Regions from separate parts of the Homo sapiens genome. Here region 2 is linked to region 1. A link means that fine-mapping ties the variant in region 1 to the expression of a gene that starts in the linked region. Tissue or cell type: tibial artery. Region 1 holds a variant in brackets; the other region holds the start of a gene. All regions are shown on one strand. Distances are between the middles of the regions.

Region 1 (2,756 bases):
CCTCTGGCCTGCGAAGGTGGCCGCTACGGGCTGATCCAGGCTGCAGCTGTGGCCACGTCCAGGGAGGTGGCGCATGGGGAGGTGCTCTTTGCAGCTTTCTCCTCGGCTGCACCCCCCACTGTGGGCCGGCCCCCATCGGCGGCTGCTGGGGCATCTGGAGCCTCTGCCCTCTGTGCCTTCCCCCTGGATGAGGTGGACCGGCTTGCTAATCGCACGCGAGATGCCTGCTACACCCGGGAGGGTCGTGCTGAGGATGGGACCGAGGTGGCCTACATCGAGTATGATGTCAATTCTGACTGTGCACAGCTGCCAGTGGTGAGTTCCAGTATTGCCCCACTTTTCCGCCTCTCTGAGGCCACTGGCCAAGCATTTGCAGCCAAGGAGCTGCCCAGAGAGTCCGAGGGCAGCTGGTGGTAGCACGAGGATGATCAGATCAGCAAATATTAAGTGCTTCCTATGTTGCCTGGGCAGTGGAAGGGTACCTTACCACAAATCTGGCATGCGGGTGGCAGCAGTGTCTGGATGGGCTTGGACCAGGATGCTGGAGGGGTGGCACTTGTGTCGGTGGATTGGGAGGGTGTTTGGGGGTTCTTGGGTAGGGACAGGGACCTAGAATGGAATGAGACCTTTGGTTCTTGAGCAGGAGAGGAAGGTGAGGTCGGGATTGATGAGCTGTAGCCTCAGGATGGATAAAAAAGGGAAGAGAGACTGGGGGCGGGGATGAGATTGTCCCAGGAGGGCCAGCAGAGAAAACACAGTTGTACAGGGAGAGCTACCAGAGCGGCTGGGGGAGGGAATGAGGTTGTCCAGGGACGATGCGGCCGAGGAGGTTATCCAGGGAGGGCCTTCCTGATGCTTCTTGCTGCCTATAGGACACCCTGGATGCTTATCCCTGTGGCTCAGACCACACGCCCAGCCCCATGGCCAGCCGGGTCCCGCTGGAAGCCACACCAATTCTGGAGTGGCCAGGGATTCAGCTAACAGCTGTGGCAGTCACCATGGAAGATGGACACACCATCGCTTTCCTGGGTGATAGTCAAGGGCAGCTGCACAGGGTGAGCCCACAGGAAGTACTGGCCCCTGCCCCAGAGTCTGGAGGGAACAGATTGCTAGGGACCCAGCCTGGTTTAAGCTATCCCTGTGACCCCTGGGCCAGGAGAGATGACCTGAGCTCCTCTCCCCAGGACTGGGTGGTGTTTACCTGTGACTTTCCTCCATCCCCGCTAGGCCAGTTGGTATGACCTGTGACTGCCTAGGAGGAAATTCTATTTGTAAATTACTTCGATTGGGTGGAGGAGGGGAGGGCTTTGGGCCTCTGGCCATGGACTTGGGTCCCAGACCCTGTGGTCTCTGATCCCAGGTCTACTTGGGCCCAGGGAGCGATGGCCACCCATACTCCACACAGAGCATCCAGCAGGGGTCTGCAGTG[A/C]GCAGAGACCTCACCTTTGATGGGACCTTTGAGCACCTGTATGTCATGACCCAGAGCACAGTGAGTGCCAGGCACAAGCCAGGGCATGGCTGCTGGGAGGGGCCTCTGGGTGGGGCCAGGGACCCACTTGTGGGTGAGCCACTGGTGTTTGGATTGCTGGCCTCAGGTCCTCTTTGCTGTCTCAGCTTCTGAAGGTTCCTGTGGCTTCCTGTGCTCAGCACCTGGACTGTGCATCTTGCCTTGCTCACAGGGACCCATACTGTGGGTGGTGCGTGCTCCTTGGCAGGTCAGATTTCTGACCCCATCCCAGCCCCAGCCTCAAGCCCACAATGCTCCTGCATAATTGTCCTGTCCAGAATTCCTGACCCTTAGACCATGACTCTCAACCCCTGATCCCCAGACACCCCAATTCCTCACCCCCATCCTCTGCACTGGGCATCAGTGCCCTGCCAGGGCAGACACAGGAGCCTCTATCATGCCCACTCTAGGGCCCTGCCCAGGTCCTCCAGATTGTAGGAGTCCCTACCCTATGAACTCCCAGTGGCCCATGAGGGTCACAGATAGACACTGGTCATCTCGCCCAGGTGCAGTCGCCGTTCTGAGTGCTCGAGGGGCCAGGGCCCAGAGCAGTGGCTATGGAGCTTCCAGCCTGAGCTGGGCTGTCTGCAAGTGGCAGCCATGAGTCCTGCCAACATCAGCCGAGAGGAGACGAGGGAGGTGAATGATCAGATAGGCAGGGCCCTGGTGGGGAGGGCTCTGGGCATCAAGGTCTGGGTAGAGATCTTGGATCCTGATGTCGGACATGCCAGATACCACATGGCCTCACACAAGTCACTTCTTTTAGGAGCTCAGTTTCCCCATCTATTTCTAACTCAGGCCAGAGGGTGTTTGGGGAGGCCTGAGGGCTGTTGATTGCTGGTGCCTGCCCACATTGGGTGTCCCATAAATGTGAGCCCTGGTCTGCTGCCCACTAGCCCCAACAGTGTGTCCCTGGCTCTCTTGGCAGGTTTTCCTATCAGTGCCAGACCTGCCACCCCTGTGGCCAGGGGAGTCATATTCCTGCCACTTTGGGGAACATCAGAGTCCTGCCCTGCTGACTGGTTCTGGTGTGATGTGCCCCTCCCCAGACCCTAGTGAGGCCCCAGTGCTGCCGAGAGGAGCCGGTGGGTGAGAGAATGGGCCAGCCTGGTGGGGGCCAGCCCCTGCTTCAGGGGATGCGGTGGGGTTAAAGTGTGAATCCAGGCAAAGAGCCATGAATGGATGCCTTTCTCTGGGTCCTCCCACTCCCCAACCACCTGAAGCCTCCATTCTGTGCCCTTGGACTGTA
Region 2 (2,607 bases), 170 kb before region 1:
TGTCTCCCCTAAGACTGGCCCACGTGTGCACATATGTCTGTACCGTACTGTCCATGCCACTGGCCTGCTCTTGCCCGCCCTGGCTGCACGGGAGGAGGTGACAGTCTTAGGGGGAAGGGGCTGCCTGTGTGATAACATACCTGGTTCTCTGCAGCCCCCCACCTGGAGCACACCTTGCAGGGATGGGGGGTCCTGGGACATGGCTGAGGAGACCCTGACCTTGGAATAAGGTCATAGCACTATGCCCCAGGATAGTTTGGGGGGTCAGTAATAAGGGATAGAGCCCCAGCCTTCCTTGGGCAATAGGAAAGCAGGCAGCATGGATGGTCTTCACTGCCTCCAGCTCTGGCCACACCAGAGTCCTCGGGCTGTGGAGGAGTCCAGCCAGTGCTGTCCCCATATCTCCCTGTGGATCCCAGGGGAGGCTGTGGGGCCGGGCATATTAGAAGGGGCCCAGCAGCCTTGGTGAGTATAGATGTGCTTTCTGGGCTGCCCAGAGTTATTCAGGATTAGCAGGAAAAAAAGGGGGAGCAGGACCCAGATGGGGGCCTGCCCTTCTTAGCAGTGCCTCTCTGCCTTAGTGTCACCCATCTAATGGAGAGATATGCATATACAGAGCCCCACCTCCTTCGGACAGTGGCCCTGGCGTGGTGTGTGTTGGAGGACTGTCCACAGCCTCAGAAGCGAAGCTGGGGGAGGGTGTGAAGTCAGCCTGGGTAAGGGGACAGGAGTAAGGTAGGGGGCAGTTATGAAGCTGGAAGCTACAGGTACCATGAGGGCAGTGAGGAAAGGAGGAAGGGGCCCAAGGGGACCTCGGCCTGGTAGGGGAGATGGGTGGCAGGGACCTACAAGAAAAGTAGATGGAAGGAGAGGATGCCTGTGGGTGAGGACATGTAGGTAGGGGGACCTGGCCTGGGGCATGGAGGGCTCGATTCCTGAGAGATGAGCTGTCACTGTGGGTGGTCCCGCCCTCCACAGATGGGCGGCCCCCTCCCTGCAGGCACAGCTGGATTGCATCTGCCTGTGACATGGTAGGGGATGTGGGACACTGGGATGTATGCATAAGCATGACACAGGTTCTCTCCTCCTTCCGGCTTATCCCCTACAAAGAGGGGGTGAGTTACTTGGATCCAGGCCAAGGGGACCTTGGTTTCCCTAAGACCGGCCCAGAGTCACTCATTTGCCAGGGCTTCTTGCCTGTCAAGGAGATCCGGGTGGGGCCCAGGAGGCCCACCAGACAGATGGCTGAATCACAGGAGTGGCCGGCGGGACCCATGGCCTGAGGGCTTGTCTGGGCACCCCCACTGGATTGGGGGTGAGTCATCCCCAACTGCAGCCCCACCCCCCACGGCGCTGCTGCCTTGTGGCTCTGCAGGAACCTGTCCACTCCTCAGCCTGGTCACTGTGATTGACCTAAAGCAGCCAAGACCTGTGACCTTAGATGGAGTTAGGGGTACTCCCTCAGCATCTGCCCATGCAGAACCTTCTGGGAAATTCCCAGAAGCCACGGGGGGTCGGGGGGTTTATAGTTAAGTGCGTCATATCGTTTGTCTGGGGGAGGGGTGGGGGGGGCGGCGACCTCTCAGGGATATGGGTGAGGGCGGGTGCCTGGGTTCCCGCCTGCCGCTCCGCCCCCCGAGATCAGGGACTTTTCTCTGCTCTGCCCGAGAGACTGCAGCGGCGGCGGCGGGAGCGGGCGGACGCGCAGGCAAGACCAGGACTCGGGCTGGAGGGGCGCTGGGCTCGGACCTGCCAAGGCCACGGGGGAGCAAGGGACAGAGGCGGGGGTCCTAGCTGACGGCTTTTACTGCCTAGGATGACGCTGCGGCTTCTGGTGGCCGCGCTCTGCGCCGGGATCCTGGCAGAGGCGCCCCGAGTGCGAGCCCAGCACAGGGAGAGAGGTGGGCACCGCAAGGGAGGACCCGGCCCGGGGCACTGCACCGTGCCACCCTCCGCTCCACTCGGCCTTCATCCCCAACACCCCCCGCCCACAACCCAGCCAACTCCACGACGCCCCGCGGATTCCTCCTAATTCTGGGACTCCCCGAACCCTCCGCGATCGGTGCTGGGTTCCCTAAACCGCCTCCTATCCTGTTCCTACCCAAATTCTGGCTCCCTGGATGCGTGCGGGGTCCCCTGCCTTATGCCAATCCACGCCGGCCCCTAGAGGCTGACCTCAGTCCCAAGTCCACACCCGTGCTGGCGACTCTCCCTCCCCCGCACACCCCCAACCCTCCGCGGGAGTCTGCTCTGGGACCCACCGAGCTCAACTCCCTCCAAGGCCCTCAGGCTCAGGCCGATTCGGCCCTGGTTTGCATAAGATGAGGCCTACTCTCCCCACCATCCCAAGTCCCAGTGAGGCCACCGTGCGGGTAGGCGGGTGGTTGGCCTCCCAGAAGAGGCCCTGATCTCTCCTGCCCGCCCCAGTGACCTGCACGCGCCTTTACGCCGCTGACATTGTGTTCTTACTGGATGGCTCCTCATCCATTGGCCGCAGCAATTTCCGCGAGGTCCGCAGCTTTCTCGAAGGGCTGGTGCTGCCTTTCTCTGGAGCAGCCAGTGCACAGGGTGTGCGCTTTGCCACAGTGCAGTACAGCGATGACCCAC

The links. PIP is the estimated chance that this variant, and not a neighbour inherited with it, causes the effect.
Region 2: it holds the start of COL7A1, and the variant in region 1 is fine-mapped to the expression of COL7A1 in tibial artery (GTEx, PIP above 0.99).

Annotation. Positions count from the first base shown.
Region 1 is chr3:48,421,064-48,423,819 of GRCh38, reverse strand. PLXNB1 (plexin B1) reads left to right here. Exons shown (of 38, transcript NM_001130082.3): 3 at 1-315; 4 at 873-1,055; 5 at 1,361-1,489; 6 at 1,615-1,715; 7 at 2,014-2,146; 8 at 2,436-2,592. Among named protein-coding and RNA genes, the nearest start is that of PLXNB1, 7.6 kb to the left of the region's middle. The variant A/C (reference allele first, on the strand shown) is at 1,430.
Region 2 is chr3:48,594,369-48,596,975 of GRCh38, reverse strand. It overlaps COL7A1 (collagen type VII alpha 1 chain), which reads left to right and starts at 1,647. Exons shown (of 119, transcript NM_000094.4): 1 at 1,647-1,708; 2 at 1,816-1,901; 3 at 2,428-2,607. The coding sequence starts at 1,817.